Regions from separate parts of the Homo sapiens genome. Here all the other regions are linked to region 1. Evidence: fine-mapped expression QTL. A gene starts in region 1. Each other region holds a variant in brackets. All regions are shown on one strand. Distances are between the middles of the regions.

Region 1 (7,525 bases):
GGCTGGATCTCAGCTCATTGCAACCTCTGCCTCCCAGGCTCAAGTGATTACCCTGTTCAGCCTCCTGAGTAGCTGGGATTACACGCACCCGCCACCGCCCCCGGATAATTTTTTTTCTTTTTTTTTGAGACAGAGTCTCACTCCATCACCCAGGCTGCAGTACAGTGGTGTGATCTTGACTCACTGCAACCTCCACCTCCCGGGTTCAAGCAATTCTTTGCCTCAGCCTCCTGAGTAGCTGGGATTACAGGTGCCCGCCACCACGGCCGGCTAATATATACATATATTTTTTAGGTGGAGTCTCGCTCTGTCGCCAGGCTGGAGTGCAGTGGTGCGATCTTCGCTCACTGCAACCTCTGCCTCCCAGGTTCAAGCGATTCTCCTCCCTCAGGCTCCCGAGTAGCTGGGACTACAGGTGGGTGCCACCACACCCGGCTAATTTTTGTATTTTTAGTAGAGACAGGGTTTCACCATGTTTGCCAGGATGTTTTCGATCTCTTGACCTTGTGATCCGCCCACCTTGCCTCCCAAAGTGCTGGGATTATAGGCTGAGCAACCGCGCCCGGCCTAAATTTTCTATTTTTTAGTAGATACGGGGTTTCACCATCTTGGCCAGGCTGGTCTTGAACTCCTGACCTCGTGATCCACCCGCCTCGGCCTCCCAAAGTGCTGGAATTACAGGCATGAGCTCCCACGCCCAGCCCAAAAGAGACAATCTTTCTCCAACATGTGAGGACAGAGTGAGAAGATGGAGGCTATGCTTTGAATGTTTATACCCTCCAAAACGCATGTTGAGGCCAAGTGTGGTGACTCATGCCAATAATCCCAGCACTTTGGGAGGCCGAGGTGGGCGGATCACTTGAGGTCAGGAGTTTGAGACCAGCTTGACCAACATGGTGAAACCCCGGTCTCTACTAAAAATACAAAAAATTAGCCGGCCTTGGTGGCATACGCCTGTAATCCCAGCTACTCAGGAGGCTGAGGTAGGGGAATCACTTGAACCCGGGAGGCGGAGGTTGCAGTGACCAGAGATCGCGCCATTGCACTCCAGCCTGGGCGACAGAGTGAGACTCCATATCAAAAAAAAAAAAAAGATAATAAGGTGCTGCAGATCTGTGGTCTCAGCTACTGGAGAGGCTGAGGTGGGAGGATCTCTCTTCTATTTTTATTTTTTATTTTGGAGACGGAGTCTTGCTCTATCATCCAGGCTGGAGTGCAATGGTGCAATCTTGGCTCGCTGCAAGCTCTGCCTCCCGGGTTCACGCCTTTCTCCTGCCTCAGCCTCCCAAATAGCTGGGACTACAGGTGCCTGCCACCACACCTGGCTAATTTTTGTTTTTTTGTATTTTTAGTAGAGACGGGGTTTCACCGTGTTAGCCAGGATGGTCTCCATTTTCTGACCTCGTGATCCGCCCGCCTCAGCCTCCCACAGTCCTGGGATTACAGGCATGAGCTACCACACCTGGCCTAAGGTGGGAGGATCTCTTGAGCCTAGGAGGTTGAGGCTGCCGTGAGCTATGGTCGCACCACTGCACTGCAGCCTGGGCAACAGAGCAAAACCCTGTCTCGGGGAAAAAAAAGAAAAGAAAAGAAAAGAAGGAACTGCTACAGCCCACAGCCTACAAAGGGGACACAGATAGTAGCTCTGAACAGCAGACGGATAGACGGGAACTTGTCCCTTTAGTCTTTCATGAACAGCCTCTAACTGGTCCAGGCAGGGAGGTGCAGGCTTCCAGGCTGTGGTTCCATGGAGGACACCAGCCGGGCACGCAATGGACGTTTTCCAGCCCTAGCACAGACAGAGCGTGCGGGCCCCTGCTCTCAGAAAGCCAGCCTTCTGCCTCTGGCAGCGCCGGCACATAAAAGCAGAGGGAGCCTGCTGTCTCTGCCTCGCCCACACTAACACCCCTATTTAGAAAGGTTGACACATCACTATCACTGCTTCTGAAAATTTTATCCGGCCGAAGGCATCAGCCCAAATTTGAATTCTTGCCAAAGCTGCTGGTGATTTCGTTCTTTGAATGCAGTATCTTCCTCATGAACACGTACAGCTCTTACAAGAAAATGAGAATACGGTTTGGGGAGGAGGATCCCTCACATTCCTTTTCCTAATGCCAGCCTCGCGAAGTCTGGTCCCATGTACCCTGGGATTCTGCCACGGAAGATGACTCACTTAATTAACACGCTGCTCCTGACCGTACACTTGGAAGCAGAGGTTCCGTTCCTTTGGTTCTTGCCAAAGCTGCTTACGAAACCATATCTTGTGTTGGTGCCCATGGTGTGTAAAAATACAAGTTCATCATTTCCCTGATACAAATTATGACAGGCTAAATTTAGTGCCTCACCTGTCCTAACTAGCTTTCCCACCATCATGCCTGCCGCCGGGCTGTGGTCCTTTCTGAGGTCCCGTGTCCCTCTGAGGACAGGGACACCCAGACACAGAGGTCAGTTGTCAGACGCGGCCACGGTGCTCGGGAGGCTGGCTGCAGACGGGCGATTCACCCTGGGTGTCTTCTTGAGTCTTATTTTTTGTAGAGACGAGGTCTCGCTTTGGTGCTCAGGCTGGTCTCAATCTCCTGGGCGCAAGCGATCCTCCCGCTTGGGCGTGGGCCAGCGCGCCCGTCCCAACGCTGGGAGTCCCGGAGATCTTGGTCACAGGCTTAAGGGAAAGGCCTAGCGCGTGGCCGCGCGTGCCTCTGGTTTCAAGGGACATGGACTGCGTGTCTGGGGCCCCTCCGCACTCCGTGTCAGACCCTGCGTCCCCCGGGTCCGCGCGGGACCCGGGCAGGGCGTCGCCCTCTGCGGCGTCTGCGCCCCGCGAACCCTGGGGCACCTGCAACCCCTGGGCCGCGGAGCCAGGCGTGCGCCGCCTCCTGGTCTCATCAACGTGAGAACGCTTTACCCCCGAAGAGCTCAGCTCCTAGGGGGCTATGTCCCTTTGCGTCTCTCGCTCGCCAGGCGGTGCCGTTTACTCGACCGCACCATGCGTGGGTAGCGGTCGCGCCCGCTGGTAGCTGTGCGGCGGGAACACGTTCTAAGTAAGGCCTGACTCCGCGCGCCTCTTGCCAGGGACGTCACGTCACGCCTCCACTCGCAGCCTCGGAGCACCCCCGCGTCCCGCGCCCGAAGCTCGGGACCCCCGCTCTGGCGAAACGAGGAATATGACATACAGCAAAACACCCCTTCGCGGCCGCTGCACTGCCGCGACACACCCGGCGCCTGCCTCTACAGCAAGCCGGCGAGGGGCTGGGACCCCGCCGGGACGTGCTGACGTCAGGCCCGACGGGGGGCGGGGCCTGGGCGGCGGCGGCGTTAGTTCTCCGGGTACCTCAGGCGCCTCAGCCTCCTTAGTCTCCTCATCCTGCTTCACAGGCTCCGCGGCCTCCGGCCTCCTCGGCCCCCGTCCCCCGGCCTCCTCGGCCCCCGTCCCCCGCCATCCGCCGCCCGGATCCTCGCCGCCCTCCCTAGGCCGCCCCGCCGCCATGGGCCTGCGCCCGCCGCGCCGCCGGGCCGAGGGCAGCTGAGGCGCGGTGCGAAGATGGGCGAGGACAGAGCAGGGCCCGAGCGCCAGCCCCAGCAGCCCGGGCGCCCCGCGCGCGCCCGCCCGCGCCGCCGAGGGGATGCCCGCGCCCGCCGCCGCGCCCTGAGCGCCTTTGTCTGCCGCCCGCGCCCTTCCGCACCACTAGCCTCTCGGGAGCATGGCGTCGGCCCCGCCGGCCTCGCCCCCGGGCTCGGAGCCGCCGGGGCCCGACCCGGAGCCGGGCGGGCCGGACGGGCCGGGGGCGGCACAACTGGCTCCGGGCCCTGCGGAGCTACGCCTCGGAGCGCCCGTCGGCGGCCCCGACCCGCAGTCCCCGGGCCTGGATGAGCCTGCGCCCGGGGCCGCTGCAGATGGCGGGGCGCGTTGGAGCGCCGGGCCGGCCCCGGGGCTGGAGGGAGGCCCGCGAGACCCCGGGCCGTCCGCCCCGCCGCCGCGCTCCGGCCCGCGGGGGCAGCTTGCGAGCCCCGACGCCCCGGGCCCAGGGCCGCGCTCCGAAGCGCCGCTTCCAGAACTCGACCCGTTGTTCTCCTGGACTGAGGAGCCCGAGGAGTGTGGCCCCGCGAGCTGCCCGGAGAGCGCGCCTTTCCGCTTGCAGGGGTCCAGCAGCAGCCACCGAGCGCGGGGCGAGGTCGACGTCTTCTCTCCCTTCCCCGCGCCCACGGCGGGCGAGCTGGCGCTGGAGCAAGGTCCCGGGTCCCCGCCGCAGCCCTCGGACCTCAGCCAGACCCACCCCCTTCCGAGCGAGCCCGTGGGGAGTCAGGAGGACGGCCCCCGCCTCCGAGCCGTGTTCGATGCCCTGGACGGGGATGGGGACGGTTTCGTCCGCATCGAGGACTTCATCCAGTTTGCTACGGTCTACGGGGCAGAGCAGGTACGGAGCGGCCCGGGCCGGGGCGTGGGAACTGGGCAGGTGCGCGCTGGCCGGCGGGGTTGATGTGGGACCGGTCGACGCTGCCCCTGGAGTCGGGAAAGGCACTGTCAAGACCTGACGGTCCTGCTTTTTCTGCTTATTCACCACTTCGGCCCTGGATTTCTGGTTGAATTGCGCTGGAGTCCCTCTTCCCTTCTTAAAAGGAGGTTCTATTCTGGGGAGTCAGTTTCTTCCCCTCCCCCCAGCGCCTCGTCAGCTGGATCTTACCGAGGTCAGCTCCTCGCCTGGGGACACCCCCCCAGGGGGCCTGATCGCCACCCCCCCAGGGTGCCTGATCGACGTGCCCCTGAATGAAGAAGTTCCCCGCGATTCCCCCACCCGAGGGCCCAGATACTGCTCGGCTGAATTCACCCAAGTTCTAGCCGCAGAGGCCAGGCTGCCCAGACGCCTTGAGATCCTACTGATAGACACCTATTTTGAGTACAATTACTTTACTGTGTGTGGTTGACATCTTTTCTACTTAGATTTCATCTTTTATTTGGGAGACAGTCAATGCTTGTAGAGAGTCCTGGAATTAAGAATTTTTACTTTGGTGCCTTTGGGGAGGAAGGCAATGAGCCTCGGAGCTTGTTGGCAAATGCAGAAGTCTAGCAGAACTCCGTTAGGGCCACGTCCACTCTCGTAGGAGAGGTGAAATGCGTGGACAGGCACTACGCACAGTACAGTGTGGAAGGGGTCCACGCGGTCCTCAGGGCACCTGCTCCTGGGGGAAAGGTGGGCCCCAAGATGCAGTTGTTCCTGTCTACCTCAGCACTTAATAAAGTTTAAGTGGAGATAACAGCAGGGCCGTGTGTGTTCTGCCAATAACCCGGTGGACATCAAATAATACCAGTGCTCACTTTTAAATATTTTACTTAGCAGGAAATCCCTAAGGTGCATCTGTCAATTTTTTGTATTTTGACTTCTCACACATGCAGACATCTGGTAAGTGGGTGTTCAAGTACATATGCATGTTTAAGCCAAGAGGTCTGTAAGAAAAGAGGTAAAATTGGCACACTGCTATTTAGGGTGTCAGTCATAACATTAAGAACCTTGATGGTCGGGCGCGGTGGCTCATGCCTGTAATCCCAGCACTTTAGGAGGCCGAGGCGGGCGGATCACGAGGTCAGGAGATTGAGACCATCCTGGCTAATATGGTGAAACCCCGTCTCCACTAAAAAATACAAAAAAATTAGTCGGGCGTGGTGGCGGGCACCTGTACTCCTAGCTACTCGGGAGGCTGAGGCAGGAGAATGGCGTGAACCCGGGAGGCGGAGCTTGCAGTGAGCGGAGATCGCGCCACTGCACTCCAGCCTGGGCGACAGAGCGAGACTTCGTCTCAAAAAAAAAAAACAGCAACAAAACAAAAAACACAGGGTCCTGATAAATCAGGGTTCCTTGCTGAGTTCACATTAAGAAGATGTGCAGACAGGTGCGTGCGGGGCAGCCTGCAATGCTCGCAAGCTTAGCTCCGGTTGGGATATTGTCAGGGTAGTTTTCCACCTACACTAATGGGCAGTGAAATATGTGACTGATACTTTCCTGTATGGTCAGCGTGGATGGTGGTTGCTGGTCCAGGTGTTTTGCTGCGTTTCCTTCTTGCCCCTGGGCTGGAGAGCACCTTGAGCTCCCTTGGTTGCTGTTGGCTACTGCGCTGTCTCTTCTCCCAAACATACTCTTGCTTCAGTACAGCAAAGAAGTTAGGAGAGTACCACATTTGCTCCTTGTTACCATAACCCAACTCTTGATAGAGAACTTCTGTGAGGCTCAGGATGTTTCCACTGGATCATACCACAGTTCTCTGAGATAGTAGGTAAGCAGGATTCATCCCCACTTTACAGGTAAGAAACTGGAAACCCAGAAAGGTCAGATAGCTCTCCCAAGGTCTCACAGGAGTAGAACTAGGTCTTTTGGCCCTTAGACCTTAGATGCCTCTTCTTAGATGTGGTGGCTCACAATATCCCTATTGTGATAATATCTTACTGACTTTCATACAATTCTTTTTATTTGAGAAACATCTTTTGTCATAACCTCCCTTAATGATCACAATGGGAAAAACTTTGTGTTGCTATTTGGGGCTGAGCTTTCTTGTCATCACAAAGTAGAAATGAGACAAAATTCTTCACTCTGAATTCCAAGAGCTCTTGATGAAATTCGAAGGTTGGGGGCAAGGGCTGGATGACTTGGGATTTGGTGAGGATGGGGAAGTGGAAGGGATCTCCTGTGGTATTACTCCTTGTCTGTTCTTCTAGACGGCTTAGGAAGAAGCAATGTTGGGTGTGATCTGAGTGCCTGGACTTGGGCCGGCTTCCTGGGATGGAGGAGAGCTCTTGATTTCTTAAAGCTAAGTTACTGTTTGGCAACAGATAATTTACAGGGTAAAGAAAGGTTGATTTTCATGTTATGTAACCCTGTAGCCATTGCTCAGTTTTAGCAGTCTTGGTTCATCTGTAAACTCACCACTCACTACCCCCAGATGATTTTTGAAGTGGGTTCCTGACATTATATCATTTCTTCCATAAATGCTTCAGTATATATTTCCAAAAGATACCGATTCTTTTAAAGACATTAATGATTTTTTTAAAAACGCTAGGGAACAGTTCAGATTAACTGGATAACAGCAATAAAGGTCATAAGTTTTTGTACTTTCTACCTTGAGATTTCAAAATATTGAGCACATGAGAGACTCTTAGTCCAGTCACATTACTGTCCTTGATGATAACAACTAGATTATCTTAATTTTTTTTTTTTTTTGAGATGGAGTCTCGCCTGCTCTGTCGCCCAGGCTGGAGTGCAATGGTGTGATCTCGGCTCACTGCAACCTCTGCCTCCCGGGTTCAAGCGATTCTCCTGCTTCAGCCTCCCGAGTAGCTGGGATTACCGGTGCCCGTCACCACACCTGGCTATTTTTTGTATTTTTAGTAGAGACGGTTTTGCCATGTTGGCCAGGCTGGTCTTGAACTCTTGACCTCAGGTGATCCACCCGCCTCGGCCTCCCAAAGTGCTGGGATTACAGGCATGAGCCACTGTGCCCGGCCAAGTATCTTAATTTTTATCAAATTTTCAGAGGTAGC
Region 2 (7,525 bases), 150 kb before region 1:
CCAGAAGTACGGGGTCTGGCGTGGTGCAGGGAGAAGGTGTCCAGGACGCCTGCGTCTGTGCCTCCCCAGTGTCACCCCACCCTCAGACCTCCCTGGGAAGAAGCCTGGGCTGGGCAGGAGGTGTCTGAGGATCTCCCTGCCTGCCCACCACCGAGAGACTCCACTGACCACTGGCCAGTCTCTCCAACTAGAACTGAGGTCAACTCGCTCCTTAGGGCCCTGTTCAGACACTGCCTCCCTCACTGGTCACCCTAAGCCCCCATTCAAGGCGGGGTGGGGCTGGGGGCCTGCACAAGTCTTGGATGTAGTCACAGTCTGTGCCTGGGGAGGGGTACAACCGACGGCAGGTCGGCCCGGGACCCTGATGTGGTTAGGGAGGGCAGGAATGCTGTCCTCAGGCCTTCACAGCCCCTCCCTCAGGACCTGGGCCTAGGGACCCCCAGGAAGATGGCAGAATCCTCTGCACATACGACCCCTTGTGGGGCCCTGCTGTGGTCCCCAGGAAAACTGAGGCTCCATCCCTCAGCCGGGTCCTTCTCACCACATCCGTACTTGCGGTCCAGGACTTTTGGGGAGGGGGCGATGGACCACCAGCCCACGGCGACATGGCGGAGTCCCACTCCAATCCCAGCAAGCTCGGCGCCCCTCCTGTCTCCCCGAGTTGGTAAGCTGGGTGGGTGGGGGTGGGGGTCCCACCGGCTCCCACCTGCACCCCCGAGCCTGACCTGGAACCTGTAGGGCGTCTCGTCTGGCCGGAGCATGAGGCTACGGGGGTCGCGCAGCGGGTAGATGTAGCCATGCTGCACCAGGACGGCGCCCAGGTGCAGGGCCTCTGGGGAGGGGTGGGACGGTGAGCGCGGGGCCGCGGAAGCGGGCGAGGGCGGGACGAGCCGGGCCTCCTCTCCCCTATGTGCTCCCCACCCTTGCACAGCGCGCTCAGCAGGGCTCTGAGAACTGCCAGACTCCAGGAAAACCCAGGCCTAGGCCACCAGCCCAGTGACCCCAGGGCCCAGTGGGAGGCAGGGCGCTCACCCTCCTCCGAGACGCAGAACTTCTGGGCCAACCACTGCACGACGTCGCTGCCTGCACGGGAGAGACAGAGGTGGAGGGAGGCCGAGGCGCGCACGCACCCCCGCCCCGGCGCGCCTCACCTGTCACCGCGTGGGGAATGACGGTGACCAGCAGGCGCTGGCTCCGCATCTTCACGCCCTGGTCGGGGTCCTGCATGCTCACGACCACCCGCTCCATCTGGGCGGAGGGAGTCGTCAGGGGGTGTCTGGCCGCCCCGCAACCCTGATTCCCTGGCACCGGCCGGGATGCCCCGGATCCGGGAGCGCGGAGATTAACGCGCGGCGGCGGCGGATTCCAGGCCGCAGCTGGCGGCGGGGACGCGGGGCGGGCCGGGGAGGGCCGGGGAGGGCCGGGGAGACCCCGGAGACCCCCAAGGGCCCCAGGCCTCGCCGCCCCTCCCGGCCTCGCAGACCTCCGCCCCAGGCCCGCCCCGCCCCGCGCGCCCCCGTGTCCCCATGCTCTCCGGCCCCTCCCGGCCTCGGGCGCCGGGAAATCGGGGGACGGCGGGACACCCACCCGCCTCGCACCTTCCTCAGATGCGGCATCTGCGCCCGGGGGCGGCCGGGGGGCGGCGCGGGGCCGGCGGCCATGGCTGCGGGGCGAGGCCGGCGGGGATGACCGACGTCCCGCCCGGCCCCGCCCCGCGCCGCGCCGCGCCCGGGTTAACCCTCGGGCCGCGAGGCCAGAGTCGCCCAGGCCCCGGTTCGGGTTTTAAGAGACACGGCCACGGCCCAGAGGCAAACGAGCCGGCCCCCCACGAGCGACCCGAGTCACCCCCCCGACCCAGGTCCCGGGACGCTGAGGCCCTCGTGGGTGAAGGCGAAGTGGGACGGGGGAGGGTGTGGGCCGGGGGCCGAGGGGGGATGTGAGGGGATGGAGCTCAGCTGGAGCAGGGGGTGGTCTCTGGGAGAGGCAGAGGGGCTCATCAGCGAGGGGGGGTTACTATGGGGAGGGTCTCAGGGAGGGCAGCGGAGGGGATGGGGGTTCAGAGAGGGAGAGGGGTTCCGTGAGTAGAGGAGACCCGTAGGGAGAGTGAACTGGGGTGGGAAACGTGGTTTAGGGCCCACTGTAACCCCGGTCCTATGTGTGGGGCCCTGAGGACATACAGGGACTAGAGGCCTGGCTGTGGGGCCGGGGCCAGGGCCAGCGGTATGACTGCCCGAGGCCTTGTGTCCTGCGATGCTTGTGGCCAAGACTGCATACATTGCTGTGACGGTGGCTGGTTAGGGGCAGGGTGCATGAGAGATTGGGTCAGCTTTCTACATGGGCCGGATGCCGGCTGTCAGTGGAGCACGTGGCTGCTGCAGAGTGTGACCCAGCTGTCCCCATCTCCTGCTGTGGGTCCCTTATCCGGGGTCCTTCCGGGAAAGTGGCTGATGGCTCATGGCTCACTTCCCTCAGCTCCACGCAGGCCTGGGTGGCCCGCTGGGGAATGAGCAGAAACCCTGCCCAGGGCACCCTGACACTGTTGGAGAGGAGCTTTACTGCAGGGAGGCCCTCAACACACACCCACTTAGTGTCACCGGCGGCCGCCAGGCTTCAGGCCCCACTCCACTCCCAGCTCTCTCCCTCCTCCAATGGCTATGCCTGTCCCCCAGGTGCACCCCGAGCCAGGCCCAGGATCTTCAGGCCCCACCGGGCAGTCTCGGCTCACTGCAACCTCCGCCTCCTGAATTCAAGCAATTCTCATGCCTCAGCCTCCTGAGTAGCTGGGATTACAGGCTCCCACCACCACGCCTGGCTAATTTTTATTTTTGTTTTTGTTTTTGAGACGGAGTCTCACTGTGTCACCCAAGCTGGAGTGCAGTGATGCGGTCTTGGCTCACTGCAGCCTCCGCCTCCTGGGTTCCAGCGATTCTCCTGTCTCAGCCTCCTAGGTAGCTGGGATTACAGGCACGCGCCACCACACCCAGCTAATTTTTGTATTTTTAGTAGAGATAGGGATTCACCACGTTGGCCAGGCTGGTTTCGAACTCCTGACCTCAGGTGATGTGCCTGCCTTGGCCTCCCAAAGTGCTAGGCTTATAGGTGTGAGCCACTGTGCCTGGCCGATTTTGGTATGTTTAGTAGAGATGGGGTTTCACCATGTTGGCCAGGCTGGTCTCAAACTCCTGACTTCAGGTGATCCACCTGCCTTGGCCTCCCAAAGTTCTGGGATGACAGGTGTGAGCCACCACACCCGGTCGGATCATTTTTTAAAAACTAAGTCGAGGTCTCACTATGTTGCCCAAGGTGGTCACAAACTCCTGGGCTCAGTCCATCCTCCTGCCTCAGCTTCCCAGCGTGCTGGGATTAAAGGCATGCCCAGCCAGCATCTTTTTTTTTTTTTTTTTTTTGAGACTGAGTCTTGCTCTGTCAGGCTGGAGTGCAATGGCGCAATCTCGTCTCACTGCAACCTCCTCCTCCCAGATTCAAGCAATTCTCCTGCCTCAGCCTCCTGAGTAGCTGAGATTACAGGCCCCCGCCACCACGCTTGGCTAATTTTTGTATTTTTAGTAGAGACAGCATTTCACCTTGTTGGCCAGGCTGGTCTTGAACTCCTGACCTTAGGCGATCTGCCCACCTCGGCCTCCCGAAGTGCTGGGATTACAGGCCTGAGCCACCGAGCCCAGCCTCAGCACCATTTTTAAAAGGTGCAAATGCATCTATTTCTGCTTGCTTTCTTTATTTTTTAAATTATTTATTTATTTATTTTGAGATGGAGTTTCACTCTTGTTGCCTAGGCTGGAGTGCAATGGTGCAATCTCGGGTCACTGCAACCTCCGCCTCCTGGGTTCAAGCGATTCTCTTGCCTCAGCTCCCAAGTAGGTGGGATCAGAGGCATGCGCCACCATGCCCGGCTA[A/AT]TTTTTTTTTTTGTTTTTTTTTTTGCATTTTTAGTAGAGATGGGGTTTCACCGTGTTGGCCAGGCTGGTATCAAACTTCCTGACCTCAAGTGATCCACCTGCCTTGGCCTCCCAAAGTGCTGGGATTACAGGCATGAGCCACCGCACCTGGCCACTAATTTTTTTTTTAATTTCATTTTTATTTTTGTAGATAAATATACACGTAGCCCCTCGCTTATCCCTGTCTGTAAGGGCCTCAGTTTCTTGCTGTGTTGCCTAGGCTGGCTGATCTTGAACTCCTGGCCTCAAGTGATCCTCCTGCCTCAGCCTCCCAAATGTTGGGATTACAGGCATGAGCCATGGCACCTGGCTATGTATTTATTTTTTGAGAGATGGCAGTCTCATTCTGTCACCCAGGCTGGAGTGCAGTGGTGCAATCATAAACTCATTGCAGCCTCAAACTCCTGAGCTCAAGTGATTCTCCCACCCCAGCGTCCTGAGTAGCTGGGACTACAGATGTGTACCACCGCATCTGGTCTATTTCTGCTTTCTTGGAGGCAGAGTACCTCTCCCCATCCTTACCCACTCAGAGGGTGCTAGGGGCTGGGCAGGGTGGGCGGTTGGCCTTGGGCTGGGAGCCCCTAACATAGTGGTCTGAGTCCATTTCCATTGCCGGAGAGGCCACGTTCAGCATGAGCTGGGGCAGGGGGCTTGTGGGGTCTCTTACTCCAGGGTACCATCTCGCTTGGATCCCAGTGAGCCCTCCCATGCCCCACACCCAGGTGGGGTGAGGTGGCCCAGGTCTGGCTGCCCTGTCTGCAGGGGTGGGCACCCATGGTAGCTGTGAGGCAGAATAGGGAATGAGGGTAGCCAAGGGTTGGGCATAAGAAACGGAACAGCAGGTGCAGCCAGTTCTAGGCAGGATTGGGCAGCTCACAAGCCACATCCTGGCTGCTGTGATAACAAGACAGAAATTTCCACTTCACCTCTGATTGGTCTCGGGCCAATCCTTCATAGGGTGTAGCCAATTGGAGGCCTCTAAAGGGCACAAGGGCTGTGGTCAGGTTTCTTTGCTTAATAAAAATCCTAATTACAGAGGCTCTGGAGCTACTTGCTCCAGCCCACTCCCACTCTGTGAATTGCCTTCCGTTAAATCTGTGCTTTCCTTACTCCGTTCTTCTGACTCAGTTTTGTTTCCTTGTGTTTCGTTGTTCTTTTGTTACTTTGTGCGTTTTGTTCAATTCTTTGTTCAACCCACCAAGAACCTGGACAACTCACCTCCAAGACCTTCTATCTGGTAACAGCTGCAGGAGCTGGAGCTGTGGGCCTGGGGACAAGTGTCCTAACAGCCCCCGCTCCCTGCAGCGAAGGGTCAGCAGAGGTGGCGCTCTAGGGGGGCCTGGGCACAAGTTCATAGGATCCTGCCCTGGAAAGGTTGTGGGCAGTTGGGGGGCAAGGGAGACAGTCCCCACCCAAACCCCAATGCCCCCTAGCACCCAAGGTGGTCTTCTCTCAATTGAGGAGCTCTTTGGCAAGGGCGGGTCTAATTTCTGGTGTCCCTGGAACCGGCCAGGGGTGTCTAAGAAAGGGACTCAGGCTGGTGTTCGGACCCCTTCTCCCTTATCCAGACGCAGGCCTTTGGTCCAGCTGTCCCAGCCAGGGCCTGCTCACCCCTGTCCCCTGCCGGGTCCCATCCCCCCCACCCACCCACAGGTCTCAGTTTAGGTGTCAATATCAGAAGCCCCCTCTGTGCTCCGGTCTCTGTACTCCGCCCCCTTGTCAGTGTCCTCTCCCTGAGGACAGGGGGCTCGGTAACTGGGTTTCCAAGAGCCCTGCAGGGACACCCCCTCTTGGGAACTCACACAGCGCAGCCAGGTCGCTAAGCCTTTGAGGGGCCCTTGTTGCCTCCTGGGTGTGCGTGCGACCCGCGCCCACTGTGGTCCCGCCCTACTGATGACCGTGAACCTGTAGGGTGTTGGGCCAGCCCCTCACCCCAAGGCTGGGCAGGCCCCCGGAGTCCCCCTCGGCCCAGACAGAAGCTCCCTCAGGAGCGGGGGAGGGGAAGGGGGCGCGCGGTCCGGCCCCAGGTGTGGCCGCGGATAATGAGACCCTGGGGATGGGGGCGCACCTGCGCCACGGCGCCCCGCAGAGGGTTTCCCAGGAGACCCCCTCGGGCTCCCGCCGCGCCGTGGGGGTGGGGCAGCCCTGCTGGCCAGAGCCGGGCACGGGCCGGGCGGGCGGCGGGGATCGTGACCGCGGCTGCGTGCGTCCGCGTCCGGGCGCTTCTGTGCGGGGTCCTGGCACGCCGGCGGGGGCGACCCGGGTGCCGGCCCGTGCGGGCGACACGCGCGTCTCTGCGGGGCTGCGCGGGGTCCGGAGCGGCTGGGGGCTCTCTGCCGGGCGCGGCTGGGCGCGGGGGGCGCTCCCGGCCGGGATGAGCTCACCGCAGTCGCGCCGGGGCTGAGCGCCGAGCGGGGCGGCGGCGGGGCGGGCGGCGGCTCCTCGGCGGCTCCGCGGCGCCCGGGCCGCGCGCCGCCATGCTGGGCCTGGACGCGTGCGAGCTGGGGGCGCAGCTGCTGGAGCTGCTCCGGCTGGCGCTGTGCGCCCGAGGTGAGCGGGCCGGGCAGGGGCGGGGGGCTCGGCTGGTCTCAGCCCCGGGCGGGGAGTAGCCCCTCCCCCGCGGCAACTTTGGGGGCGCGCATGGGGACCTCGCGGCGCCGACCCCCCGGCTGGGGTCTGGCAGGGGTGGGGGACTTCATCCAGGCTCCAGCCCTGTGGGGAAGGGACCAGGTGCGGACGGGTCGGCTTGGGAAGCGGCGGCGCTGGGACCCTCTCCCCCTGGACACCGCCGCCTGGAGCCCCTCTGTCTTGGGTGGGGCTGGGGCTGGGGCTCAGGCTCTGTAGGGCGTGTGGTGATCCCCGAGAAGACGGGAGCGAAGTGGGCAGGGACTCAGAAACCCCTGCCCAGGGCACCAGGGAGAGGGGCTTCAGGAGGCCACCAGCCCGGGGCGCCATGGGAGGCGGCGCAGAGCCTGAGCCCAGGGATTTGGAGACAGCCGCCCCCGGCACCCGAGCACCATGGGGAGGAACTCCTAGACTGTGGGAAAGTGTTCAGAGACCCCAGTCCAGAGCAGGGTGGTGGAGGGCCCTAGAGGGTCAGTAGGCTTGGGGGGCCGCCGAGGGCCCTAGAGGGTCAGTAGGTTTGGGGGCCGCCGAGGGCCCTAGAGGGTCAGTAGGTTTGGGGGCCGCCGAGGGCCGCTGCTCTCTAGCAGGTAGCCCCTGACCCTGGGCTGCCCTCATCTGAAGTCTTCGCTCCCCCGCCCTTTGGTCTCCGAGTCAGGGAGGGGGCCCTTGTGGACATCTGGGCCAGAGGAGCTGCAGGCCTGGCGGTCTCTGGAGGCCCCTCCTGAAGGTCTGGGTGCGGTGCGGCACCTCCCCAGGCCGCCCTGCTCTCTCTGCTCGCTCTCTCCCTGAGCCCCCAGAGGCTTCCCTTGAGTCCCTTTGGATAGTGGGAGGTACAGCTGGCCAGAGGGGGCTCCAGCCTGGTGCTCGAATGCCAGGGTCCGCTAGTGGCTGCTGCTCACGCCCCTCCCCACCCCCAGTCCTCCTGGCTGACAAGGAGGGTGGGCCGC
Region 3 (7,525 bases), 44 kb after region 1:
TCTTAGTGGTTGCCCAGCCACCTGACACGCCAAGCTGGGGCCTTCTCCCAGACACCGTCCCCTTCTCTCTTTGCTGTCACCTGGGCCAATCCCACAGCAGCTGGGGCACCCCGTTCTCCTTCCCAGCAGCTGACAGATGGGCCTGGGAGGGCTCCTGCGCCTGTCTGCTTGAGAGGGCGGTGAGCTAGTCATCGTGAGCCGGCCAGGGCTCTCCTATCTCACTGCATTAGAGCTTGAGCCAGGCTGGTGGAGGTGGCTGCAGCCGAGGGAGAGCACGGCTGGCACCTGTGAGGACCATGGATGGGGACACATGGGGCAACGGGCCCGTGAGTGCTGTCGAACCAGCCTGTTCCAGGCTCTGGGACGTAGCACGAAACGGCAGTGCAGAACCCCTGCCCTTGGGAGCTGGCTTTCTAGTGGGAGACAGACCACAAAGTAAGGCAGGAGCTAGGGAGGCAGAGGAGTGGGGAGGCCTCCCTGAGAACGTCTGGGATGGGAAGGCAGCATCCCAGCAGGGCTGCACCTGGCATGTTTGGAGGCCACAGGGAGGCAGGGTCAGAAGGAGCAGGTGAGAGGCAGGCCTCACAATTCTGTCTCCAGCTCCAGGCTCCTGAAGAGGATGGTGGGGCATCCCTGAGAGCTGGTGTGAGGGGTGGGACACTGAGCTGACTGCAGAGCTGACTGCAGAGTGGAGTGGGCGTCAGGGAGGAGGTGCAGTAGCCTCAGGGAGGAGGTGCTGGGACGTCAGGGAGGAGGTGCAGGGGCCTCAGGGAGGAGGTGCTGGGACGTCAGGGAGGAGGTGCAGGGGCGTCAGGGAGGAGGTGCGGGGGCGTCAGGGAGGAGGTGCAGGGGCCTCAGGGAGGAGGTGCTGGGACGTCAGGGAGGAGGTGCTGGGGCCTCAGGGAGGAGGTGCTGGGGCGTCAGGGAGGAGGTGCTGGGGCCTCAGGGAGGAGGTGCTGGGGCCTCAGGGAGGAGGTGCAGGGGCGTCAGGGAGGAGGTGCAGGGGCGTCAGGGAGGAGGTGCTGGGGCCTCAGGGAGGAGGTGCAGGGGCCTCAGGGAGGAGGTGCAGGGGCGTCAGGGAGGAGGTGCTGGGGCCTCAGGGAGGAGGTGCTGGGACGTCAGGGAGGAGGTGCAGGGGCCTCAGGGAGGAGGTGCTGGGGCCTCAGGGAGGAGGTGCTGGGACGTCAGGGAGGAGGTGCAGGGGCCTCAGGGAGGAGGTGCAGGGGCGTCAGGGAGGAGGTGCAGGGGCGTCAGGGAGGAGGTGCTGGGGCGTCAGGGAGGAGGTGCTGGGGCCTCAGGGAGGAGGTGCAGGGGCGTTGGAGGAGGTGCAGGGAAGTCAGGGAGGAGGTGCAGGGGCGTTGGAGGAGGTGCAGGGAAGTGAGGGAGGAGGTGCAGGGGCGTCAGGGAGGAGGTGCTGGGGCCTCAGGGAGGAGGTGCAGGGGCCTCAGGGAGGAGGTGCAGGGGCCTCAGGGAGGAGGTGCAGGGGCGTCAGGGAGGAGGTGCAGGGAAGTCAGGGAGGAGGTGCTGGGGCGTCAGGGAGGAGGTGCTGGGGCGTCAGGGAGGAGGTGCAGGGAAGTCAGGGAGGAGGTGCAGGGGCGTCAGGGAGGAGGAGGTCCTGGGGCGTCAGGGAGGCGGTGCTGCCATGGCATTGGACACATGGCCTCTGGGGCTGCGGGGTCTGCTTTACTTTTGAGTAATTTGATGTCATGATTTATGTTTCGTTCGGAAGGAGAGTGAAACTAGAATAAAACGAAGTCGAAGATGATTTTGGAATTATTTCATAGCATTTAGAAGAAAGGAAAATGTGATCATCCAAACCGCACTTCAGCCAAAGTTCACTTCAGGTGTTAGCTCCATCGTGGCTGCAGCAGCCTGTGTTGTCTGTCAGCCCTGTCTGCGTCGAGGAGTGACCAGCAGGATGTGCTGGCCTAGTTTGCTGGGAAGCACAAGGAGGCTTTCCTGTCACAGCCACAGGCCTTGTTTCAGGAATAGAATGAGATAGAGAGGGATTGTTCCAAATAGGCCATTGCTGTGTCTCACACACCCTCACGCTTTGGAAGAATAAGGGAAACGCACGTGAAAAATTCCTAATTAATTGAAAATTGTTTTAGTTTTTATAAGGAAAACTAATATGAGAATGGTATTTAGGTCCTACCAAGAATATAAAAATGCCATCTGTGTTCATATCCCCTGCTCCGCCCTCTGGGGCAAGACCCTCAGATTGTTTGCCCACTGTCAGAACCTGAGCTGTCATGCGCTGTGTCCAAAATGCTTCGCTGTATATTGAAAGTTTTTAGTTCTGTGTTTCAGTGTTTATAAGCGCAGGCAAGACTGTTAGCATTTTAAAATGTAATTTAATTTTTAATTTATTATTATTATTATTATTATTTTGAGACAGACTCTCGCTGTAGCCCAGGCTGGAGTGCAGTGGCGCGATCTTGGTTCACTGCAACCTCTGCCTCCCGGGTCCCGGTTCAAGCTATTCTCCTGCCTCAGCCTCCCTCCCAAGTAGCTGGGATTACAGGCACATACCACCATGCCCAGCTAATTTTTGTATTTTTAGTACAGACGGGTTTTCACCATGTTGGCCACTATGGTCTCGAACTCCTGAACTCGTGATCTGCCCACCTCAGCCTCCCAAAGTGCTGGGATTGTAGGCGTGAGCCACCATGCCCGGCCTATTTTTTATTATTTTAAATGTATTATTTATGTATTTATGAGACAGGGACTCACTTTGTCACCCAGGTTGGAGTATAGTGGCATGATCTCAGCTCACTGCAGCCTCCACCTCCCAGGCTCAAGTGATTCTTGTGCCTCAGCCTCCCGAGTAGATGGGACTACAGGCATGCCCCCACCACACCTGGCTAATTGTTTTTGTGGAGATGGGGTTTCACTGTGTTGGCTGGGATGGTCTAGAACTCCTGACCTTAAGTGATCCGCCCGCCTCGGCCTCCCAAAGTGCTAGGATTACAGGCGTGAGCCACCACACCCGGCCTTATCTTTATTTTTTGTAGACATAGGATCTTTGCTATATTGCCCAGGCCAGTCTTGAACTCCTGGACTTAAGCAATCCTCTAGTGTCAGTCTTCCAAAGTGCTGGGATTACAGGTGTGAGCCACCATGCCTGGTCTCCACTTTTCTTTTTTCTTCGAGACAGGGTCTTGCTCTGTCACTCAGGCTGGAATGTAGTGGTGCAGTCTTGGCCAACTGCATCCTCTGCCTCCCTGGCTCAAGCCTTCAGAGTAGCTAAGACTACAGGTGTGTCCCACAATGTCCAGCTGATTTTTTTCTTTTCTTTTCTTTCTTTCTTTTTTTTTTGAGATGGAGTCTTGCTCTGTCGCCCAGGCTGGAGTGCAGAGTGGTGTGATTTCGGCTCCCTGAAACATC[C/T]GCCTCCCAGGTTCAAGTGATTCTCCTGCCTCAGCCTCCCAATTAGCTGAAATTACAGGTGTTCGCCACTATGCCCAGCTAATTTTTACTATTTTTAGTAGAGATGGGGTTTCACCATGTTGGTCAGGCTGGTCTTGAACTCCTGACCTCAAATGATCCTCCTGCCTCAGCCTGCCAAAGTGCTGGGATTACGAGTGTGAGCCACTGCACCCGACCTAATTTTTGTATTTTTGTGGAGATGGGGTTTCACCATGTTGCCCAGGCTGGTCTCAATCACCTGGGCTGAAGCAATCCACCTGCCTCAGCCTCCCAAAGTGCTGGGATTACAGGCATAGGCCACCGTGCCTGGCCCCAACCTTCACTTTTAAAATAAGTGATTGACATTAGAATAGATTGTGTTAAAGGTATTAAGTAATGCTATTTTATAAGTAGCTGGTCTATTTTAGGCAAGTAGTTGAATTAATAGTGAGACAGTGTGAAGACACCTAAGTGTCTTCTGTCACTCACAGGCCCTGGAAGGTGCTTTGACCTGTGAATATCACTGAGACGCTGGAAGCCAGTGCCTTTTCCTACAGGAGGAGAGGCAGGTGCTGCGGGATTGGTTGTGTTTGCAAAGTGATGACTGTAGCTGACGTAAGAATTATAGCCTGTCTCTCATGAGAAGATAGCTTTTCCTTTAAAGTTTTTCTCATAGAACATTGATTATAGAAGATAAGCAAAAAAAGAAAATAAAATGAAAACTGCGCGTGAACCCAGCACCCAGGAAAAGATGTTGTTTTTGTATTATTTCATCATACCTACACCTTCTCATGTAAATGTTTTTAAAGGTTTAAATCTGATTGGTACCTAACACTTTTTAAAGGCCATGGACAGTTTTATGGAGCTCAATGTCTTGCTCTTTTTTTTTTTGCAGTGCTGTCTGCTTCTTTTAAGAAATAAAAAGTTTATCTCCTACCTCTGCATCTCCTCCTCAGAATTCTCTCCAGAAGCCTTGTTCCTGTGGGCAACGCATCTCTGACCCGTTGGCAAGGCTGTTTTCTCTCCCTGGATTTCTCATGCTCACTCCCTTGCTTGTCTTGACCCCCCCCAGGGCCCCCAACTCCCACACATCTGTCCCTGGGGGCCTCCTTCCCAGGGAGTCCCGAGGCCGCCAGGGGTCCCGTCACTGGGTGGCTATGGGTGGCCTGTTGAGCACGAGGTCTTCTCCCTGCAGATCCTGATGGCCAGTGCTACGGTGGTGTCGCTTCTGCCCAAGATGAGGAGCCCCTGGCCTGCCCGGACGAGTTCGATGACTTCGTCACCTATGAGGCAAGTGGTTTTCACCCAGGAGCTTGGGGGAAGTCTGGCATCCACCTCTTCCTTTATGCCCTACAGCTCGTGCCTCCTGCCTCCGGGCTGTCTTCCGTAGAAGCTGGCGTGAAGGAAGGGCCTCCCGCCCTGTGTGCACCGTGGGGCTCTGTGGCTGTGACGGGAGGCCCACAGTTGTCTGTCCCACACGCCCTGTCAGCCTGGGCAGGAATCCTCCCCCAGGGCCTGTCGCCAGCAGAAGTGGGGTGGGCAGTGATGTCATGACCACCCGCTGCCAGGCTGGCAGGCACAGGCGGAGCAGAGGGCTTGGGAGGATTCCTTTTGTCAACTTGCAAATGATTTTCTGTGTTTGGGGATGCCTGACTAATGCCTGCCCCTGCTTGGCTGTCCTCCACCCTGCTCCCAGATGCAGCCAGGGTTGTCATGGTGACGTGGCGTCTCCTGTGTCTCCTGTCACTGTGGGTCCCTTGTTCTCAACATAGCTGGGGAGAGGGTCTTCGAGCACAGCCGTGGTCGACAGAGCGTAACCATGTCCGCCGGTCTGGAGGGTTAGATTCCAGGAGAGCCACGTGGCTGCAGCAGAAAATGCATGAAGTTGAACTTGAGCCCTTGGGGGCCGCCGGGAAGGTGGAGGTGGCAGCCGCCAGTCCTGGTCAGCCTGCTGCCGAGCAAGGGTACCAGAAGTGGGGCTGAGCTGCTGGCCGGTAGGGCCTGGGCTTCTCATGTCAGTCCTCTGAGCCCTGACTCCTCGAAAGCTGAGGCTGGCACAGGGTAGTTTTTGAGTTGCTTTTGGACGCCACTGTACCGTGGGAGCCATGGTATTATACTCAGTTCCCTGTTCCGAGAAGCTGCCCCAGGGATTAGTCACCCTCACCCTTGGGTGGGCAGCTTAACTTCTGCCCACACAGACCCTGGGGGTGGTTCTGCCTTACGGCGGTGTCCCAGTTATCAGCTGGGCTGCAGCTTCTGGGGCCAGGGCGCCCACCGTGGGTCCCATGTTTGGCCTTGGTGTGCTCTTTCTGCACGTGAGGCAGCAGTGAGGTGCTGGCTAAGAGGGCGTGTGGTGGGAGTTGGACCCTCTCGCATGGCTGCAGTGTGCAGAACGTGCTGGGAGACCCCAGGACTACAGACGGTGGCTCCTGTGCCCTGAGAAGGACCCGGCTTCTTCACGAGGAGATGCCCAAGGCTCTGCAGGGTAACCCAGAGCCCTTGGTCTGCAACGTCCGGGGAACTGTGTGTTCCTGGGCGTTCATGTGCCTGTGCACTCTTTCTCACGTGTATCCGTCTTTTTGTTCCCCTCTCATGTTTGTTAGGGCATTGTTGATTGTTTATATCCTATGTATGGTGCAGTGGCTGAAGAGTGGCCTCTCAAAAGATATGTCCACCCAGCAGCTGTGGATGTGGCCTTATTTGGAAAAAGGGTCTTTGCGGATGTAGTTCATTAAGGATCTCAAGGTGATATCATGCTGGTTTGGGCCCTAAATCCAGTGACAGGTGTCCCTGGAAGACGGGAGAGACACACAGGGGGAAGACCATAGGAAGACAGGGCAGAGACTGACCAGAGCCAGGGAACTCCTGGGGCTCCCAGAAGCCAGCAGAGGCAAAGATGCATCCTCTCCGAGAGCCTTAGGCAGGAGCCAGCCCTGCTCACACCTTGGCTTTGGACTTCGGGCCTCCAGAACTGAGAGGATAAACTGGTGTTTCTTCACGCCCCGTGGTCTGTGCTAGTTCGTTATGGCAGCCCTGGGCAGGGAAACCTTGAGTGACGTTACTCGAGGCACCAAAGGCACCAGTGCATTTTATCCTTAAAGGCCCACGTGGTCTGAAGGGTGTGGCCGAGCCTCACGCTTGTCACTTCAGAAGGGTGGGAACCTGACATGTCAGAGCTAATCCTTCTCATATTTTTAGATCCTGATTTCTTTTTTAGAATGGAAGAAAGTTTTTTGACTTAAAAAAATGAATATGCTTCATGTTTTAGAGCAATTTTAGGTTTACAGAAAATGGAACATAGTGTAGAGCATTCCGGGATCACGTTACATGATTATTTGTTTTGTTTTGTTTGAGACGGTCTGCTCTATTACTCAGGCTGGAGTGTGGTGGTACAGTCTCGATCTTGGCTCACCACAACCTTCGCCTCCTGCGCTCAAGTGTTCTTCTTTCTCAGCCTTTCCAGTGGCTGGGACCACACTCAGTAACCACCACGCCCAGCTGATTTTTTGTATTTTTTTTTTGTAGAGATGGGGTTTCACCGTGTTGCCTAGGCTGCTCTCAAACTCCTGAGTTCAAGCGATCCACCCGTCTTGGCCTCCTAAAGTGCTGGTATTACAGGCGTGAGCCACCGCACCCAGCCTGATATGTTAGTATTAGCCAAAGTCCGTAGTTGAGGGTTCACTCTTGGTGGTGTGTATTCCGTGTTTTGACAGGTCCACGATTATAGTGTCACAGAGTCGATTCAGTGCCGGCTCATCCCTCACACCAGCCCCCACAACCACCGATCCTCCGTGTCTCCACAGCTCTGCCTCTTCCAGAACGCCACGGAGCTAGAACCATCTGGCATGCAGCCTTTTCAGATGCGCCTCTTTCCCTTAGTGAATACGCAGTTACCTCTCCTCCATGTCTTGCTTTGCTTTTTAAGGGTGGGATGTAATTTTCCACAAAGTGGAGTTCGATACTGTGAAACTTATGGAAAATTTGCTCTTTTAAAAAACAGCTTGCACATCATGTCATCTTAAAAAAAAAAAGTCTAATAAAGATATGAGTAGGGAGTATGTGTTCCATCCAGATACCCTATTCGGGGACCCTCCACTGGTAGTCTTCAGGTAAATAAACC
Region 4 (7,525 bases), 66 kb after region 1:
CTGCGGAACTTGTGACGTGGGAGGGCACACGAGTGAGGAGTGTGAAGAGGCTGGAGGTTTTGAAATGACTGCGTGTTGGGCTAAGTAAAATTTTTTGTTAAAATATATTCGGGCCAGGCGTGGTGGCTCACGCCTGTAATCCCAACACTTTGGGAGGCCGAGGTGGGTGGATCACGAGGTCAGGAGATCGAGACCATCCTGGCTAACACGGTGAAACCCCGTCTCTACTAAAAATACAAAAAATTAGCCGGGCGTGGTGGCGGGCGCCTGTAGTCCCAGCTACTCGGGAGGTGGAGGCAGGAGAATGACGTGAACCCGGGAGGCGGAGCTGGCAGTGAGCCGATATTGCACGACTGCACTCCAGCCTGGGCGATAGAGCCAGACTCTGTCTCAAAAAAAAAGGTAAAGAAACAGATTTATTTATTTATTTTTTTTTTTTGAGACAGGGCCTTGCTCTGTCACCCAGGCTGGAGTGTAGTGGCATCATCACTGCTCACTGCAGCCTTGGCCTCCCAGGCTCAAGCGATCTTCCCACTTCAGCCTCCCGAGTACCTGGGACTACAGTCGTGCGCATCCATGCCTGGGTGATTTAAAAATGTTTTTTGCAGTTGAGGCCTCCCCCTGTTGCCCAGGCTGGTCTCAAACTCCTGAGCTCAAGCCATCTGCTCGCCTTGGCCTCCCAAAGTGCTGGGATTACATGTGTGAGCCACCGCATCCAGCCCACTTTTTTTTTTTTTTTAAACGTGGCTCCCAGGACTCACGTGTGGCTTGTAGCACACCCTATGGAAAGCACCTTCCACACCCTCAGCTCGGGGGTGCCCTGGCCTTCAGTCAGAAGACATCATTTCTGTTTTACTTTGCAGGCCTCACCCCCATGGCCAGTCTGTCATCACGGTGATCGGGGGCGAGGAGCACTTTGAGGACTACGGTGAAGGCAGTGAGGCGGAGCTGTCCCCAGAGACCCTATGCAACGGGCAGCTGGGCTGCAGTGACCCCGCTTTCCTCACGCCCAGGTAATGACGCCTTGTTCCAGCACACCCTCCTCCCTCTTCTTCCCGTGGTTAGTAGTGGGAAGTTTCCCTTTTTGGTTCGTGCATTGGTGAGAGAACTTGCTTTCCTTGACGTCATGTGATTAAGTAAACCATATTCAAACATTTTAAATTTATACCTGGATTTATGAAAGTTGGGAGAAGTCCCTCTTCTCCAGCCACATCCCCAGATCACTCTACATTTCTGAGGCTTCAGCAAAATCCTGTGGCACAGAGCTGTGTTTGCACACTTGGCTTGCGGGCTCCTTTGCTGTGGGCCGTGGATCACATGGTGGTCTGTGCAGGCTTTTGAGGGAGGCCTCATGATCATAAGTGAGTCTTCAGATTCATTTCCTTATAAATATCTGACATCCCCAAACTGGAAAGCTGTGACTCTGAATAAATAGAAGCACAACACGCAGTGGGCGAGATGCCCACTCACAAATGTCCAGAGTCACTCTAGGGAGTCCAGAGTCCTCTTGGCTTGGATCCGAACATGGGGGTCTGGGTACGTACTTCTGAGGGCTAGGGGCTCCCACGTGGGAGTCAGTCCCTCTAGGACGCTCCTGACTTCAGGGAGACCCTGGGCTGGCCGATGGGGTTGTTACTTCAATCCCTTCTCCCCTTTGCTACTAGGTTGTCGTCCATCTTTGCCAGCAGTCAAGGCCGAGCCTCTTTAAGCAGCCACAAGAGTCTTCCCTTGCCTGCTGCCCGCCCGCTGTTACTGAGGCCCAGGGAACCTGGGTGGAGGGCGGTGCAGGAGGGGCTGAGCAGCTCGTCTGCCCATAGGGTCCCCCTCCTTTTGTTTCCCATGTGCCCTCCTTGAAGCCGCCCGTCAGCCCTGGGTGTGGGGACCCTGCACGGATATCCTGTGTGCTCTGGTCCCGGCGAGCGTCCTGGGAGAGCTGTGCATGAGTGAGGCATCACAGACGGTCCTCAGAGGCAGTGTGCTTGTCTTAGGCACTTTCCTCTCCCAGCGCGTGGTGGTGTCAAGACAAGGGCCAGAGGACTGGGGCGTTTCTAAACTTGGGTCTCTGTGCTTGGTAATCACCTCTTCCTACGTGTTTAGTTTGTCCCTGTCTCCTGTTCAGTGTTTTCATTGTTACCTGTTTGAAGTGTAATGTCTATGCTACATTGTATGTTTCACTTTTCACCTTTCTTTACTTGAGCTTCCAAATGGTTTCCCACAGCATGTGGGTCCCAGCGCCCGCGATGAGGCTGCCTTTGCTCCTTTGCCTTCGCGTCGCAGACGCAGCACCCCTGCCAGTGGCCCAGAAGCCCTTGGAGGTGAAGTCACAGGGAGGTTAGCTAGCACCACCACAAAATCTAACACTGAGTTTCGACAGGTCGGTCTTTTTGGGGGTTTTTTGAGACAGGATCTCACTTTATTGCCCAGGCTGGAGTGGTGCAATCATGGCTCACTGCAGCCTCCACCTCCCTCAGCTTCCTGAGTAGCTGGGACTACAGGTATGAGCTACTACGCCGGGCTAATTTTGTATTTTTTGTAGAGACGGGTTCACCATGTTGCCCAGGCTGGTCTCAAACGCCTGAGCTCAAGCGATCCACCCAAAGTGCTGGAATTAGAAGCAGGAGCCACCATGCCCGGCTTTAACGCACATCTTAAAAAATCACAAAACTATTGTAGATTTATCATTCATGCATAGTTTTTGCTAGAGGTGGTTTTTGGAGTAATCATAAATATAGTACAGTAAGTACAAGTTTACCCGGAGACATGGTTCGCTATCACATTGATGTGTTTTTGGCAAAAGAGAAAGCAGTATGGTTTTTTACCTTCTTGTTAAAGAAGGGCTTTTGCTTTGCAAGGAGGCTCTCAGGCTGCCCCTGCTTTCTTCTGGGCACCCGACCCAGAGGAGCAGGTGTGTGCAGGGCCCCCTGAGGCTCGAGCTGGTGCCTGTCCTGGGCTCCTGGAGGCAGCTGAGGGATGTGGGCTCACTGCGGTCTAAAGGCAAGAGCCAGAACATTGCACAGCTCATTCTCTCTCCACGTGCTTTTGTTCCACACCATGTCCTGTCCTGTTCCCCTCGGCCCCTCGTGCGGAGTCACAGATGACCACACGGGTCCTCATCCTCTCCTGAACGGATGCTTCTGTCTCTCTAGCACTGACCCTCTTGCCGCAAAGCTGCACAGCATCCTCACTGATGAGGCGTTTGAGTTTTACTGTAGCCAGTGCCACAAACAAATCAACCGCCTTGAGGATCTTTCTGCCCGCCTGAGTGATCTTGAAATGAATAGGTAACTGACCAGCGCCTGGCCTTGCTGTCTGTTCCCAGGGTGTGGGGGACTCCGGATACCCACAGCCCCCTTGAGGGCCTGCCCCGAGGCGACCAGGAGCCTCTCAGGCAGCGGGACTCTCCCTGGGGCCCCGCCTCCCACCCTGCACGCTGTGGGGCCACCAGGGCCCTGCCTCCTCCCCTGCATGCGCAGCCCAGGCCAGTGCTTGTCTTGGTGGGAGGAAGTGATCGGTCTTTGCAAGCTGTGCTGTCTGTCCTGTGTGTGAAAGAGGATACTTTCTGCATTTTACTAAAAGATTTCTTTCATTGAGCTCATGAGACAGAATTGGGAAAGTTAAAGATTTAGTCTTTAAGAACAGATATGTAAACAGCTTTCAGGATTGTCAGTTTAAATGGAGTTTTGAATACTCACAGTGAGCGTGTGAGGGAGCTCACTGTGTCTCAGCAGGGGAGCTCTTGTGGCTGGCCCTCATGTCTAACTCCCAGTTACAGAAGACGGTTTTGA[G/A]TGCTTTGCACATATTGACGTGCCCGTTGGGCATCGTGTTGATTTCGCTTGCGGTGAAGCCCCTGGGTGGGCAGCTCTCCAGAAGGGTCTGGTGAAGAAACGGGCCACTTTGGAGCTTTCCACAGCAGCCCTAGCCTAGCAGAAGAGGTGAGTGAGCATACAGGCTCATGCTGGCAATCTGGGACGGCTTCCTGAAGAACGGGACCTGGCCTGTGGGGAGGGTTTGTAAAGGTGGCAGAAAGGTGAGTTATCCTGACGGTTCTAGCATGTTTAGAGGTATCTGTGAAACTGCTTACCTGTCTTGAGCCTGCCCTGTCCCTGCCCCAGGGGGCTTCTGCCGAGGCACATCCTTGCTGGCGGGCGCTCACTGCCCACGGCCTTATTGAGGCTTCTGTCCTGCCTCTAGTTCCATTTCCAGGGCACTTAACTCTTCTTATGTTCTGTGAAATGCTGTGAAGCACAGGGCCCCCAGCCAGTGCCCATTCAGGTGGAGAGGATGGGGGTGGGGCCCGGCACTGATGGCCATTCTGGAGCATCGGGGGTCTTGGCAGCACTGGTGAGAAAGCAGAAGTGCTCTTTGAAGAGGGTCTTCCCGGGAGACCCGAGGCCGCCCAGAGCCCTCCCCGGGAGACCCGAGGCCGCCCAGGGCCCTCCCCGGGAGACCCGAGGCCGCCCAGGGCCCTTCCCGGGGAGACCCGAGGCCGCCCAGGGCCCTCCCGGGAGACCCGAGGCCGCCCAGGGCCCTCCCGGGAGACCCGAGGCCGTCCAGAATCTTGGATTCCAAAGATCCGCTAACCTCTGTTTTAGGGGAAATCAGTTTCTGCCTGCGTGTGTGTTCAGCTAGGGGTTCAAGGCCCGGCGACGATGGCTCAGCCTGCTTGGGGAGGGGCCATTTGTTCTTCCCACGCAGAGACTTGCCCTCCCACTCACCGATAAGTTGAGTGCAAGCATGTCATCTCCGTACATGAAAGTAAGCCTGAAGACTCAGGTCTCGTCTCTCATTTTCTGAAGATTTTTGACATAGAACTGATTTTTTCCCACATTGAGAACTAGCTCCAAGATGGCCATGGTCGCCTCTGCTGGGCTTTGTGGGGGCAGAGAAGGGACTAGGATGTAGCTAAGTACAACTAGCAAGTCCTGTGGAGCCTCACGTCCAGGTTCTGCTACCCCTTTTCCTAAGACTCTATGAAGCGGGCCAGGCGCAGTGACTCACGCCTGTAATCTCAGCATTTTGGGAGGCTGAGGAGGCAGGCAGATCACTTGAGGCCAGGAGTTTGAGACCAGCCTGGCCAACATGGCGAAACCCTGTCTCTACTAAAAACATAAAAATTAGCCAGGCATGGTGGCACATGCCTGTAGTTCCAGCTACTTGGGAGGCTGAGATGGGAGGTTCACTTGAACCCAGGAGGTGGAGGCTGTGGTGAGCCAACATCCTGCCACTGCACTCCAGCCTGGGCAACAGAGCCAAACTCTGACTCCAAAAAAAAAAAAAAAAAAAAGACTCTACCAAGTGGTTAATATGCTATTCAATTCAACACAATCAGGACACACAACTGCCAGTCAGAACATCCTCCCCATAACCCTTAGTGGAGGAGATCTGAATCTTGCGTTTTAGTTTCCATGGACTTGCCTGAAAGTAAGCTTATTTGGTCATGCTTTGTGGGTGGCAACAGGTGACTTAGTCCAGACCACCTCTGGAAGCTTTGATGTCAGATACGATGTCCAGTCGCCTCAGAACAGGCCAATAGCTGTTGCATTTTCCAGGTACCCTGCAGCCTCTAAATACATTTCATTTTGTAGGAACTAAGAAGTGTGCCTTACCTGGAGGTATATTTTCTTTTTTCTTTTTTTTGAGACAGAGTCTCGCTTTGTGACCCAGGCCGGAGTGCAGTGGTGCGATCTCGGCTCACTGCAACCTCTGCCTCCCGGGTTCACTCCATTCTCCTGCCTCAGCCTCCCGAGTAGCTGGGACTACAGGCGCCCATCACCACACCTGGCTAACTTTTGTATTTTTAGTAGACACGGGGTTTCACCATGTCTCAATCTCCGGACCTCGTGATCCGCCCGCCTTGACCCCCCAAAGTGCTGGGATTACAGGCTGAGCCACTGCACCCAGCCTGCCTGGAGGTATATTATCTTTTTCTTTTTTGAGACAGAGTCTCGATCTGTCACCCAGGCTGGAGTGCGGTGGTGCGATCTCGGCTCACTGCAACCTCTGCCTCCCGGGTTCACTCCATTCTCCTGCCTCAGCCTCCCGAGTAGCTGGGACTACAGGCGCCCATCACCACACCTGGCTAACTTTTGTATTTTTAGTAGACACAGGGTTTCACCATGTCTCAATCTCCGGACCTCGTGATCCGCCCGCCTCGGCCTCCCAAAGTGCTGGGATTACAGGTGTGAGCCACCGCACCTGGCCACCTGGAGGTGTATTTTCAATTATAAATCCTGTTGCTGGGCTGCCAGTCCAGGCCCTGAAAGGTCAGTAGGTAAACTGAACGATGAGTCTGTCCTGTCCTATTAGTTCTAGGGAGTCTCAACAATAATAAGATAAAATTAAATTTGTATTAAGGCTGGGTGCGGTGGCTCATGCCCGTAATCCCAGCACTTTGCGAGGCTGAGGTGGGCAGATCACGAGGTCAGGAGATCGAGACCATCCTGGCTAACACGGTGAAACCCCATCTCTACTAAAAATATAAAAAATTAGCCGGGCGTGGTGGCGGGCGCCTGTAGTCCCAGCTACTCGGGAGGCTGAGGCCGGAGAATGGCGTGAACCCGGGAGGTGGAACTTGCAGTGAGCCGAGATCATGCCACTGCACTCCAGCCTGGGTGACACAGTGAGACTCCATCTTAAAAAAAAAAACCTGTATTAAAATATACATTATTAGTCTCCAGTCGAGAAAGGAGAGCCACACAGTAATTTGAACAGGGACAGTTTAATACTACAAAGAATGGGCTGAGTGTGGGCTGAAATCGCAGTGCTTTGGGAGGCTGAGGTGGGAGGATCACATGAGCCGGGGAGGTCGAGGCTGCAGAGGTGGGAGGATCACATGAGCCTGGGAGGTCGAGGCTGCAGAGGTGGGAGGATCACATGAGCCGGGGAGGTCGAGGCTGCAGAGGTGGGAGGATCACATGAGCCGGGGAGGTCGAGGCTGCTGAGGTGGGAGGATCACATGAGCCGGGGAGGTCGAGGCTGCTGAGGTGGGAGGATCACATGAGCCGGGGAGGTCGAGGCTGCAGAGGTGGGAGGATCACATGAGCCGGGGAGGTCGAGGCTGCAGCGAGCTGTGGTTGCACCACTGCACTTCAGCCTGGGCCACAGAGTCATACCTTGCCTCTAAGAAAAGATAATGCAAACAAACAAACAAAAAATTTAAAAAATCATTAGGGAAAGGAAAAGAATGTCACAGGCTATGGGAGTAATGAGGCACTGGTTGGGATGAGTAAAAAGAACTCTGCAGAGTGTAGGGACAGCAGGCACAGGAGCAGCCGCCACCCAGGGCCGGGGCAGAGCCCCCCAGCTACAGTCACTGCCACCCAGGGCTGAGGTCTGCACCAGCTGCAAACGGCGTGGTGGGGACACCACCGTGCTGTCAGGGCTTGTGGGGAACCTGCCTCCTGGCTGCCAGGAAAGCTATTCTGTTGCAGGACACTTGGCAGAGGCACCCCTAGAGAACAGCTACCCGAATGGGGTCGGGGAAGCCCCTGGCTCTGGCTACAGTGGGCAGGATGCTCCCTGGAGT

Evidence for each region.
Region 2: its variant is fine-mapped to the expression of RAB11FIP3 in whole blood (INTERVAL, PIP above 0.99).
Region 3: its variant is fine-mapped to the expression of RAB11FIP3 in whole blood (TOPMed, PIP 0.93).
Region 4: its variant is fine-mapped to the expression of RAB11FIP3 in whole blood (TOPMed, PIP above 0.99).

What each region holds. Positions count from the first base shown.
Region 1 is chr16:422,309-429,833 of GRCh38, forward strand. It overlaps RAB11FIP3 (RAB11 family interacting protein 3), which reads left to right and starts at 3,341. Exons shown (of 14, transcript NM_014700.4): 1 at 3,341-4,412. The coding sequence starts at 3,699.
Region 2 is chr16:274,251-281,775 of GRCh38, forward strand. ARHGDIG (Rho GDP dissociation inhibitor gamma) reads left to right here and starts at 6,341. Exons shown (of 6, transcript NM_001176.4): 1 at 6,341-6,503; 2 at 7,496-7,525. The coding sequence starts at 6,431. RGS11 (regulator of G protein signaling 11) reads right to left here and starts at 1,694. Exons shown (of 17, transcript NM_183337.3): 1 at 1,599-1,694; 2 at 1,152-1,248; 3 at 1,033-1,083; 4 at 726-832; 5 at 1-15. The coding sequence starts at 1,661. RefSeq lists enhancers at 959-1,610, 6,482-7,239. The variant A/AT (reference allele first, on the strand shown) is at 3,915.
Region 3 is chr16:466,695-474,219 of GRCh38, forward strand. RAB11FIP3 (RAB11 family interacting protein 3) reads left to right here. Exons shown (of 14, transcript NM_014700.4): 3 at 4,601-4,695. Among named protein-coding and RNA genes, the nearest start is that of RAB11FIP3, 45 kb to the left of the region's middle. RefSeq lists enhancers at 1-175, 176-804. The variant C/T (reference allele first, on the strand shown) is at 3,388.
Region 4 is chr16:487,988-495,512 of GRCh38, forward strand. It overlaps RAB11FIP3 (RAB11 family interacting protein 3), which reads left to right. Exons shown (of 14, transcript NM_014700.4): 5 at 864-1,013. LOC107987417 (a long non-coding RNA gene) reads right to left here and starts at 5,553. Exons shown (of 3, transcript XR_007064933.1): 1 at 4,582-5,553; 2 at 4,082-4,338; 3 at 3,386-3,995. RefSeq lists enhancers at 4,316-4,937, 6,396-6,974, 6,975-7,525. The variant G/A (reference allele first, on the strand shown) is at 3,786.